3 separate regions of the Homo sapiens genome follow, and regions 2 and 3 are each reported to be linked to region 1. Evidence: microRNA targets listed by miRTarBase, many of them from high-throughput screens and not tested one by one. Region 1 holds a microRNA gene; each other region holds the end of a gene's coding sequence.
What was found. The annotated mature microRNA hsa-miR-2277-3p reads UGACAGCGCCCUGCCUGGCUC and lies in region 1 at 2,538-2,558, opposite strand. An mRNA with a match to its seed (bases 2 to 7 or 8) in the 3' UTR can be bound and repressed. Matches are read on the target gene's strand: a 7mer-m8 pairs with bases 2 to 8, a 7mer-A1 pairs with bases 2 to 7 and ends in A, and an 8mer does both.

Region 1 (4,137 bases):
TGCAATCCAGGTCAAAGCACGAGGCAGAAACTCGAGAAAAGAACAGTTATTAAAGGTACATGGTCTTCTTTTCAAATATCCATGAAAACATTTAACGACGGGATGGCTAGTACCTATAGAAAGCTCCAAAGCAATAATCTGGCCTTTAAGTTTCGACGGGACTATTTTGAATCTTAGATTTATCAGTCACTCCTTTCCCATTCTACTTGTTCTAAGAATTAAGTATATAATTAAAATAAAAAGGCCACATCCTGACTTTAAATCTCCACTCTCCTAAAAACCTGTTTGAGGAAACAAAAATGGGGAAGAAGATCAGAACAAAAATATTGTTAACACTGGCCGTCCTCATGCAGGTGGGCTACTACCAACGCTGGTTGTTACTCCAGGAAAATCGAGGTGAACATTATTACATTTATATCAACAAACCCATAATCAACAGGTTAAAAAATCCTACATTACAAAGAATCTGATCACTTATCAGTTGGTGGTCTGGAATAGTTTGCCTAGCTCCCTCTGGGCTGCTACAGCTCAGATTCACAAGTAGAAATTACATTTACACAACTTAAGTTTGCAAATAGCTCTCCATAAATAGTTAAACCAGGCCTAACCATCCAGTAGTTTTAAAGTATTAGAGGCAATTAAATAGTGATTTATTCTAGCTATAAGTAAAGGTTTAAAAAGAGGAGAGATGATTTCAGAGAAGGAATAGCAGTGATTTGGTTTATAAACAGCATATTTATTGTGCTCTAATTCAGGTGCAGAAGCTTCGCCAATTTAGCATTGCACAAGTGTTGGTTTTTTATAAATGCTATAAAATTGTTTCCTGTCAACATTTTCTTATACTGAAAACACAACACAATTTATAATACCTTGAAAAATATATTCAATTCACATCAATTCTTGAATCTCTCACTGGAAGGAATGTTTGTCCCTCAACTAAGATTCCGGAACACTGCTGAAGATACCATTATTTTACACAGTTCACCACTACTTCTAAAATAGTAATGATTGGATAAAAAGGGTCAATATCACAGACAAATGTGCTTGATGTTGTTGGGGTTTACTCATTTTAAGCCATCTGGTAGCTGAATAAAATGCCATTTTGATTTTTCCTCCTATATAGTTGATTTTGCTTAAGTAACACGAAAATATATGCATACCTGAGCACTGAAAAAACATCTTTAATTTGTCATCATTAAGACTATAGAACCAATGAATGTACTTGTATGTCAAACACAGCAATGAGATATTAACAGCTTTAAAACTTGTTGAAATCGGTTCATAATATAAAAACATTTAAGCACGAAGTGGTTGATTTTAAGTTACTTTTCTGAGGCATTAGACAGTTCGAAGTCATTTTGGGTACATTTTATCATGTCCTCAAATAAGGCAGGCATATTAATTGTTGCACACACTTTAAAAAAGGATGAAAACTATTAAATTTATGTTCTCATCTATTAGAAACAATCTTTACTAGGTAATTAAACTTTTCAAGTAATTAAAATATAATGTGAAATTTTAAGATTTTAATCTAAAAGTCAGCAAAACCTTAACATCTCCTGTATTTCACAGTGTTGGCCACATCTTAGCTGGATTAAAATAATTGTTCAAACTGTAGGGCTAAACCCTACAGAGGAAGCGGAGTGCTAAAAATTATACCATTGGACTGAGAGAAGAAATTCTTTCACACCAAGTCCTTCTCTTCTTGTTAAAGCAGAAAACTAAAAGGATAATTTTAGCCCCACTTAGCCTTTCAGAAGAAAAAGGCTGCAGAGCACAAAGGTTTCGTTTCCTGATGACAATAAAAAAATTCTCTCCCTAGAAGGGCCTAACTCCAGGAAAGCTCAGAATAGATCATTCTGGAAAGGATTAACAACAACCTTTCTCCACAGAGAGATTTAAAAAGCAAAACTTAAGTGTGTTATATCTAAATTACAATGCCACACAGTACACATTATGTGTTTAAAAAGTAAAGTCAATCCCAGTGATAACAGTTGGAAATTCCATTGAAAATGGGACCTTCACACCTACACTTAAAAGAGCTGCCCATCATTGTTTTGGTTTTAACAGTCTCTTCTGAAATCAGAGACTTGTGTAAACTCTCACAATTAGCTGGCAAAAGGATTTTCAGCAGTAATGCGGATTCAGTACTTTATAGATTTTTATGCAGAGTTGTTTTTTTTTCTGGTCCCGAAATGAAAACAGGGAGAGAACAATTTGCATTCCCCAAACTACATGGTACATCATGGCATTCAGGTTCTGAATTTGAAATCGGCTTTGGAGTGTGTGTGGAACTTCCTTAAAAAAAAAAAAAAAGAGGTGGGTAATAAGATGCCCTCAGGGAAAAACCTAGTGAAAATGGAAATCTGAAGTCTGGAATAGAAGTTTGCTCCAGTTGAGAGCGGGGAAAGATGGACATGATTAAGGAGGGGGAAGCAGCAGCGGCTCCGCTACGGCGGGCGCTAGGACCGCGCCGACGCCGCCGGACCCGCAGCGCCCGCGCGGTCTCCTTCAGGGCAATTAGAGCTTCGCCGGCCGAGCCAGGCAGGGCGCTGTCAGCCTTAATGTGAGCGCTGACTGGCAGCGCTCAGCCCGCGCTCAGCCCGCAGGAAGCACGACCAGTGAACCCATATTGCTTTGACAGTTGCACTCATCTAGAAATAATGCAAAACGCTATTTAGATGTATATATCACGACCCTGGGCTCTGGGAAGAAAACAATCTAATGAGGGGCTGGGAGTCCGCTCGACACAAGCAGTGAGGAGGCGTGCGGGTGGGTGCGCCAGGGCGGCCTCCCCCGTCGCGCTCGCTCCTCTTACAGCTCTTCGTGCTTGATGCGGTGGGAGCGGCGCGTCACAGCCGGCTTCAGGGAGCTGGTCTTGGCCTCTGAGGCTTCGGTAAAGAATTTGAAAATAGACGGAAAGCTCTTCCAGGAAGTTAGCTCGTGACGGTCGGTGCCTGCAAAGAACAACACATTCGGTTACCAGGTGGCCACGCGGGGCCAGGCGCGGTGAGGGCGGCGAGGGCCAGGCCGAGCCCCGGCTCCCGACCACCCGGTCCCGCCCCTCCCCGCCCCTCCCGCCTGCGCCCCGCCTCAGCCGCCCGCGCCCCGCCCCTCAGCCAGGACCCCCGCCCCCTCGCGGGCGCGGGCCAGCCGACTCCCAGGGCACAACTAGGGCTGCGGGGTCACTTGCCCCCTGGCTCAGAGGAACTCAGACTTCGCTATCCGCGGCGTCTAGGCGTCTCCGGCCTCAGTCCCCATCCCTCTCCCAACGCGGGGACGCGGCCCGGATCTGTCCCGGGGTCGTCCGAGGCGCGGCTGGCCGCCCGAGGCCTCCGCCTCTCCGGGCCAATGGAAGCGCTGGGCGGGAAGGGCCACTCCCTCTCCCTCCGGGAAACCACCCACTCCCGAGACTCGGCGCGCGCGGGGATTGGTTTCCCCTGCGTGCGGGATCGCACAGCGCCTGTTTCCTTGCTTCCCAAGGGGGTGGTGTGGAGGGGAAGGGGGAATGATTTTTCTTGCGTCTCCCGGAAGCTGTGCTGTTAGACACAATTACCTCAGCTAGGTCACTGAGACCAAATCATACGGGACGCTTAATGAAGGACCGCATTCAAAAGGGATTACGCCTTGAAGTGTCCTGGCGGGCGACATTTTTACAGATTTTAAGGGGCAAATTTAGAACAGCTAAAAAAAAGGTTTCAAAGCCGTGACTACTAAAAGAGCATCTAGGCCTCCCATTTTATCAGGAGGAATTCAACTTAGAAAATGCAGGTTAGTTGTCAATTTATGGGGTTACTTTATTTTACTACGGCTTCTCTCTGTGGTTTCGATGTAATACTAATGTACAGCATGTTTTCAAATCAAATCGACCTTCAGTTTAACACAGGCAGCGGATAACACGGATGCAAGCATAAGAACAGATGAGGAAATACATTTAGCTATTTTTGACTCCCTGTGATGGCTTATGTAGCATTTTACCAGTGGCTTCATAAATGAGCACTTTTTAAAATTAAAAATTAAAATAATTACAGACTTCCACAGAAATAATGAGTGAATAGCTTTTAAACAGTTGAAATCTCTTCCTAGATCACTCAATTATGCAGAGAGATACCGCTTGGAAGTCTCCGGATTCAGGGC
Region 2 (4,000 bases), not on the chromosome of region 1:
TTTCCTCTGTTCTTTTATTTCTTTTTCTCTTTGATTGAAAGGGGACTACGTCTTAGCAGGAAAAAAAACTTCGCATTTCTGTGCCCGAGCAGGCTCCTTGCAAAGACAGCAGCGTGCGGGGCAGAGCCCCGGGAGGGCGCGTCTGTCCACGCCTACCGGACGCGCCGAGGTCGCGCTGCCTGTGTTCTCCGAGGGCCTTCATTTAAAGAAAATAAGGGTGTTTTGGGTTTTTCTCTTTGTTTTTTTCAAGATTCTTTTAAAGGAGTACTGAAGAATACTTTCCTAAGTTTGTCTGTAAAATCTTAGCGGTGGACCTGGGAGATTTGAGAAGCTTCCAGAAACAGTTTAAACAAGCCAGCGCTACTGGAGAAGAGGAGCAACACCTGTGCCGCGGCCGGAGGAGTTTTGTTGTTGGTTTTAGCTTCCAGTGGCTTCTTTCTGCGGGGCATCAGGCTGCTGGGGTAGCCGCCCGCCGAGCCTGGAAGCTGCTCGTTCTCCGCTGGACTCAGAAGCCAAGCTGCTTCCCGCCTAGACTCGGCGCAGGGCCCCGCACCGGTGAGGAAGGTGCTTTTGGCCCCATTGCGAGGGGCCTTGGCCAGGACTGGCCCTGTGGCCAGGAGGCGAGAAGGTGGCTGTTCCCGGATTGACGGCTTTTTCCCGGGGGCCTTTGGAAGATTTGGTGGAAGGACAAGAGGGCCTGTCCCTGTCCCCGTCCCCAGGAGGTACCGACAGTCCCTGTGCTGGTTAGACACGGAGCGCTGCACACCGAAAGCCCAAATTGGGAGCTCTGCCTGCCGGCAACTTTGCTGATGGGGTGATTGCTGCTTCTGGGGGGTAAGGAAACAAGTTACAGAAATTACCGCGTTCTGTGTGAAGGGACTGAGGGTGTGGTGTCATTGGCAGAGGGTCATTTTAGGAGAGCTGCCCCAGCCCCTCGAACGCCTGGCTTGGGGTGTCATTCTGCCTGGCGGCCAGGCCTCCAGCTTCCCCTGCCCCGGGCCTGGGGCTGTCACTGGCCCTGATCCGAACACCTCCAGATTCCGGCTTCTACATGGGACAGACGGGGACGCACAGGCCACCTTCCTTCTGGCAGGGACTCTTATTTATTCCCATTGCTCTAGGGCTTTCGGTTTCCCCTTCTTCCGGTAGGCCGCGTAGAGGCATGCACCGGGTAGGTTTCCGCGGTGACCCCGCGGCGGCCTGAGGGACGCTCCCTGCCCCATCCCGGCTGTTGGGCTGGGCCGCTTTGCCTCTGCTTCGCCCTGTGCTGTGTTCTCCAGCTTTGTAGCAGCAGCCTTGACAAACCCAGGCGCACTGTACCAAGGCAATGTAACTTTTGATTTTCGGTCAATTTAAGTTCTTTTGTCACCAAATATTAATAAACAGTTTTGACTTCACACCAAGGTTGGATAAACTGCAGGGGGTGGAGGGTGCTGGGGTTTTGCCTTGGCTGAGTGACGGGTTGGGGTGTGAAGGAGGCCAGAGGGAGACAGGCAAAGCCCAGAAGGGACAGGTCTGCCTTGCAGGACTGAAGGGCGACCCCTGCCCCTGGGCCCTTCCCGTAGGCAGCACCTGGGCCTGTCCGGGCGGCTCCCCGGAGTGGCGCGTTAGGCCTCTGGCAGGTGGCCTGGAGGTGGAAAGGCCTATCCGATCACCAAGACTGAGGGGCGCCCTCCCCACCACCCAGGCAAGGAGTCCAAGGAGACCAGCGGAGCAGACCACGCGGCATTTATTGTTGGGCCCGCGTCCCTGCCCGCCCCGGGTTAGCGGCAGCCGCACTCGTCCACCACCATGTCCTCATACTGCCGCAGCACCACGTTGTCGCTGTTGTCAAAGAAGAGCACGGAGATGGGCGACAGGCGCGCGGGCACGCAGCAGGGCAGGTCGGCGGCTCCCGGGGCGGCCGCGTGCATGAGCGCGCGCAGCACAGCGTGGTTGAGCGCCGGCGGCCCCCCGGACCCCGACAGCGCGACGGGCAGCGCGCACTGACCCTGGCAGTAGTTGGCCAGGAAGCCGCGCGGCGCGATGACCCAGCGGTGCCAGCCCACCTCGCGGAAGCTCACGTACAGCCGCCGCGCGCGACAAGCGCCCCCGGGGCCGCCGCCCAACACGGGTTCGGCGTCGCGCCGCGGCCGGGCCAGGGGGTGGCACAGGCGCGGGTCGAGGGTCACCAGCAGCAGCGAGGCCTCGGCCAGGCGCGCGCAGGCGGCAGGGGCCCGGGGGCGTAGCGCCAGCGCCAGGCGGAGGCTGCGCGGCCATGAGGCGTTGCGAGCCCAAGCGGCGCCCAGCAGCTCCGCGCGCACTGGCGGCCCCAGGGCGGGCACCAACTGGCGGAGCAGCACCGGCCCGGGGTCCGCGCCCGCGCCCTGGCCCGCTTGCGCCACGCTCAGCTCCCAGCCGCCCTCCGGGGCTGCCGCCGCCGCCGCCGCGAAACGCAGCTCCAGGCGGGCCCGGCTCGGGCGCTCAGCGGGTTCCACAGCCGACAGGTCGAAGACGACTGTCCACTCAGGGCAATGCCCCGCGGCCGAGGCAGGCTCCGAGGCCCGGGTGGGCGCACCTGGGGAGGTAGGAACAGGAACTCGGCTCGCGCTGCGTCCCCGGCCTGCCCATGGGGTCTCGGTTAGGGACAGGGAGGAAGGTGAACGCTGGGGCTCGGGGCGCACCGTCTGTGGGAAGGGTGTGAAGCGGCGGGGTGGGCTGATGGAGTGGGGGCAGGGCATGAGTTCCAAGGAAGGCGCCCTGCGGGGTGCGGCGGGGGGGGTGGGCTGCCCTCGGCGGGGGGCATAGGAGGAGGGGTGGCCGAAGTGGGAGACATGAGCCAGAACCTGGGCCCCTGGGGAAGCCATGCTAGGGTGTGGGGATGGCATCTGCAGGAAGGCATTAGTGTCAAGAGGTGGGGGTGGGCATGGGGTGGGGACAGGGCTTCAGCATCAAGCAGAAGGACTGGTCTTGGGAACCCCCTGACATGTGTCCCCGGCGTGCAGCAGATGACGAGGAAAGGGTGAGGTGCGGTGGCCGAAGTTGCTAGTAGCCTGGACAGGGCGGGTGGGGACCCTCGGAGCTGCTCGGGCATCCCCGGGCCACTCTCGAGGCTCGCCCTGCGAGGTCTGGCCTCCAGGACCAGTGTCCCCAGCGAAAGCCCCACTCACCGCGGTCCGGGATGTGGCGCACGATGTTTCCGGCGACCCCCAGCTCCTCCACGTGGCACGGTTGCAGGGTGACCCCTGGGGACGTCCGCCGCGAGCCAGACCTGGTCTCCTGGGGGTCCCGGCGTCGAAACAGGCGCCACATGACCGGGGGAACCGGCCGGAGCCTGGGGGCACCCTGGGGCTCATCGCGCAGTCCTAGAGCCTGGAGCAGGGCGGCGGCTGGGCCTGGGGGCACGGGGGCGCGGGTCAGGGGCAGCGAGGGCAGCAGCAGGGCCAGGAGGAGGAGGAGGTGGTGGCCGCAGGGACCTTGCTGCGGCGGTGGCATCTTCCTCCCAGGCGATGACCAGAGAGTGCGCAGGGTCCGCGGCGGCCCGGGACCAGTGGGCTGAGGGCGGGGCCGGTGTCCCCGGAGGGGCAGGGGTCCTGGGGGGCGTGGCCGGGAACTGGAGGCAGGATGAGGGGGCGGGGTCCCAGGGGAGGTGGCGGCGGCCCTAGAGGAGCAGAGTTGGAGGGGGTGGAGGGGCGGCCAAGGACGGGGAGCGTGGCCGGGGTATTCGGGGTGGGGCCGGGTCCACGGGGGCGGGGCCGAGGGGTTCAGAAGCGCTTGTCCTTCACCAGGCCGTTCCTCAGTGGCTTCCTGGGGGTCAGAACCGGCGCAGGTTAGCCTGGGAGCCCCACGCGGCCGCCTGGCCCTCTTTCCCGCTTCTTCTCTGGCCGTTTCACACCCCCTGGCTCCTTTTACCCGGCCAGGCCCGGGCCTCGCCTTGTGGCTTCCTCCTCGCCTTCACCCTGCCCCTCCTTGCCTTCACCCTGCCCCTCCTTCAACCTGCCCCGTAGGCACGTATGTCCCC
Region 3 (4,000 bases), not on the chromosome of region 1:
AGGGAACATTTGTTCACAAATGGAACGCTAACAATACCAATCTGAAAGCTATCAAAGGGACCCAATCAATAGAAAATCTCAATGTGAATTTGCTAGTTAGCAGGATTTTACAAATTATTTAAATCAGCTGAGCAATTCATGAGTGATATGAAACTTTACAGCAGGGGTGTCCCATCTTTTGGCTTCCCTGGGCCACATTGGAAGAAGAATTATCTTGGGCCACACATAAAATACACTAACGATAGCTGACGAGAAAAAAAAAAATCACAGAAAGAATCTTACAATGTTTTTTAAAAAGTTTACGAATTTGTGTCGGGCCATATTCAAAGCCGTCCTGGGCCAAGGGTTGGACAAGCTTGCTTTAGAGAGAAATTGTAAAGTAGAAATAAAAAGGAAACTTCACCTTACAGGTAAATACCTCTAAATATTTACCTTAGAGGAAAATAGAGGGAATAGTGGATCAATGAACAGCCTCTCTTTCTCTGTTTGAAGAAATTCCACTGGCTAAAGTTAATTCCAGATTTTTTCCTGCCCTGCAATCCAGGCTTAGCTTTTGCTAGACCGGGTTACACCAGAACGGAGCCAGGCTAAAAACCCAGACCCCAAATCCTTCATTAGCCTGTTGTCCTAAGACAATTCTCTGAACTAAAACTATTCTTGCAACTCACTGTCATCCCCAAAGCTTGGTACCCAATTAAAGCACAAAGCAGGCTGCAGTGATATCTTCTACCTCTGCTGTTTGCTTCTGGGGATGCTTGCAGGCAGGTCACTGATAATTGGAAGCACCAAGGCAGAGGCCTGGGACTTTCTGCTGAATGGACTCTCTCTAGTGAAGCCAGCCTCTAGTTTCTTTGCAAGAACCTGTGTCATGCCTAAGTCCCCACAAGTGTGGGCTTCCAGAGGAGCGGCCCAGCTAGCCCCAGCTGAATCAGAGCTTCTCTTTTCTGTGGATACGTCACACAGAAGGCCTAAATAAAGGTTTTTCATAAGAGTCCCATTGTTGCAAATTGGCCATATGGTGACAATTGTTGAAGCTGTGTGTTTTTGAAAATGTTCATACTAAAGAGATAAAAAGAAGTATCATTGTTTCACCGTCCTGCTGAGCAGCACCAACTCTGTTTCTGACTCCCTCCCACTTTTCTATGAAATTTGTTAATCTTGCTTAGACTTCTAAAGGTTAAAACTGCAGAATTTTTATTTCCTTGGAGAAAGAACCATAACACCCATCTTAGGTTTCCCAGTTCCAGTTTCAACTCTCATAGACAAGATGAGACCAAATAAAACCTCAGAAAATACAAAAATCAGATAAATGGAATCTACCCTAACAGGCAGGTGGGATTGGAGCCATGAGGTCAGCTGCTCCATTTGCTGTATCAAAGCGCACGCTGGGCAGGGTCTGCCATATGCACAATATGAGCGTGTAGGCTGAGCCTCAGTCCAGGGCCGAGAAAGGCCAAAACAGAGCTTGGTGAAAGGAGAGGCAGGAAATGGAGAGCCAGTCCTGCAGGGCCCACAGTAAAGCGAGGACCAGGGGTTGGCATTTTCCACACTGCATTGATTAAGGCTTTGACAGCTGATCTTTTACATACATACATATATACAGACATATATTATTAATAATACTTTAATTTTTTTCTGTTTTAAGGAAAAAATATTCCCATGCATTTCTCTGACCTTTCTTTGTATCATTCTAGTTTTTGCTCCCAGCAATCACTTTAATGAGACACAGTCCTCTGGTGCCACATTCTGATCTGTAAAAAATATAACCTTTCACCTTTTACATATACTTTGTTTAAAATGATGCTGATTCATCCCAAAGGAATTCCGGTGCATGGGAGCTATCTTGGCTCTAACCAAAAACACTCATGTGCCGCCCTGCGTCCAACAACAACCAAACAGGACTTACAGTTATGTAAACATTATTTAAAAATTATTCCAACATAAATACTCTTTTAAAGCTAACATACCACAGCTTTTAGCTCATAATGCCCATAGATGCCTTAATGAAATGCCATTCAAAACTACCTCACTGTTTAAATTATACCTTGAGGTGCTAAAATTATGTAAACATCATCCTCTACACTTCTCTAGAACAAGTGCCAAGTGTTATGAATTCTGTTTGCAAGTTGGTGATTGAATACTAGTTAATCAGAGCAAAGTTACCAACGCACTCTTTAACCTGATTGGCTACAGGAAGCTAGTCACTGATTGACTTGTTCCACAAGGCGATGATTCTTACATAACTTATAATTAACCAGTCTTCAACAGTGTTCACCCCATAAGGGACCTGAATTGGTCCCTCATAAGAGGTCTTTGCACATTTTGCAAATGCAGTTTGAATTGGATGTCAAGGAGTCCAGGTGTGCCACGGCAAGTGCCTCCAAAGCTAAAAGAAGAAATGTTCTTTGAAGCCCATGGAATTCCAAGCACAGGTGGAGTCTTCTCAAAGTCAATGAATGAAAAAAATATCAGGACGAGCCACAATATTGTCTTCTCAGCAGACAGGACTCTCGCCAGCAAATGTTCTGCTGTATTCATAATGGATGCCTTAGCCCCCACTGCAATTAGGGAGGGGGGGAAACCAAAGGGACAAGGAGAGTGAATGACTCTGAGAAATGGCTTTGTGGTCTCCTAACTTCATGACAATGATTCTTATACTCGAAACTCCCTCTGTGCTCACTGCTCACTGTGATGCCTTTTTTTAGTCCTGACATCCATCCATATTTTCAGGTTTCTTGGTTGACATGTCCCTGGCAGAGAGAAAGAAAATGATTCCAGCCAAAGCTGTGGGCCACACATTAGTCTCGGCCAAGTTTTCATCCCTTATGCCCAACATGGACAGAAGACAGCCTGGCACCTTTGCAAGCAAGTCCAGATTAGAGGAACGGCCAACCCCAAGGCTGACCTTTTGCCACATAGGAGCAAGGGACAAGGAGAATGGTATGAAGAAGCATAGCCGGAATGGTCAGTGACTTCAATCCTAATCTTTAACACTTTAACAGTTCATGAATGATAACATTGCAGACAGAAGCAAAAGAACATTTTTCTCTCCACCTTGTTGGCCAAACTTACAAGACTTTCATTCAAATATATACCTCTAAGGCTGGATTCTGAGTTTTTGTTTGAGAAAAATACTGTACACTGTTTTAGGGCAGATTTTCAAGGTGCTATTGTTGTTAAAAACAAAACAAAACAAAAAAAATTCTCAGTTTCTGTCTTTCAAGAACATCAGCACTATTTCTTCATGTGCAGGGCATCCTGGAACTTGGTGCTGGTGTATCGGGCATGAAAGCCTTTCTTGTTGATGGTGTCATCTGTGCGGAATCGAATCATCAGGGAATCACCTGCAGAGTAGATTTCTTCTAATGGCTGAGGAAAGGAGAAAGGGAAACGAGAAGGACTTTAGCTGTGATTGGAGTTGAAAATGAGGAGGATGGGACAGGATCTTATGCAAGGACACAGGATGTGTCTCTGGTACCAGAGACTCTGAAGGGCATCCAAACAAGCTCCTTTTCAAAAGAAAACATTGCAAATTCTGCTCCAGGGAGCTTTGCAGGCCCTGCTCTTCCAAAGATGATCCTAGGTGCATAGCTCATATAGAATCTATTATTTATTAAGTATGCAGGTGGGTCAGGTGCTGCACTAGGCAATTCCAGATCTTATGTAAACTTTACAGCAACCTTATAAGGCAGGTACTATCCCCATTTTTCACTTCAGGAAACTGAGACTCAAGTTCTCGCAGGTAGGCGGGACCCAAGCTTAGGTCCTTCTGACAGTAAAGGATGCACCATGAATCACCGAGCTCCAGGGTCACCATTATGATGTGTCTCCCAGGAGACCTGAAACAAAGACCATGGTTCAGGCCTCTGTCTCATCCAAGGACAAAAAAATGGGATGGAGCCACTATATTGGTCAGAAAGGTTTTGCCAGGTGGTCTGTGAATGGGAGCCACGTTCCAAGGCTGTTGCCTGCGAGGTTCTAGTGGAGCCAAAGTGGGCTT

Region 2: the mRNA of CERS1 is a reported target of hsa-miR-2277-3p. Seed matches in the 3' UTR shown: 7mer-m8 at 1,963-1,969.
Region 3: miRTarBase lists TLL2 as a target of hsa-miR-2277-3p. Seed matches in the 3' UTR shown: 7mer-A1 at 1,568-1,574.

Annotation. Positions count from the first base shown.
Region 1 is chr5:93,618,173-93,622,309 of GRCh38, forward strand. It overlaps MIR2277 (microRNA 2277), which reads right to left and starts at 2,616; the gene lies at 2,524-2,616. ARB2A (ARB2 cotranscriptional regulator A) reads right to left here. Exons shown (of 11, transcript NM_032042.6): 11 at 1-2,957. The coding sequence ends at 2,815. It overlaps LOC124901028 (a long non-coding RNA gene), which reads left to right and starts at 3,510. Exons shown (of 3, transcript XR_007058874.1): 1 at 3,510-3,771. RefSeq lists an enhancer at 1-770 and a silencer at 3,125-3,174.
Region 2 is chr19:18,866,834-18,870,833 of GRCh38, forward strand. CERS1 (ceramide synthase 1) reads right to left here. Exons shown (of 8, transcript NM_021267.5): 7 at 3,150-3,786; 8 at 1,712-2,557. The coding sequence ends at 3,744. UPF1 (UPF1 RNA helicase and ATPase) reads left to right here. Exons shown (of 24, transcript NM_002911.4): 24 at 1-1,397. It overlaps GDF1 (growth differentiation factor 1), which reads right to left. Exons shown (of 8, transcript NM_001492.6): 7 at 3,150-3,786; 8 at 1,712-2,557. The coding sequence starts at 3,474. The coding sequence ends at 1,764. Among named protein-coding and RNA genes, the nearest start is that of CERS1, 27 kb to the right of the region's middle.
Region 3 is chr10:96,364,854-96,368,853 of GRCh38, forward strand. TLL2 (tolloid like 2) reads right to left here. Exons shown (of 21, transcript NM_012465.4): 21 at 1-3,369. The coding sequence ends at 3,235. Among named protein-coding and RNA genes, the nearest start is that of OPALIN, 7.9 kb to the left of the region's middle.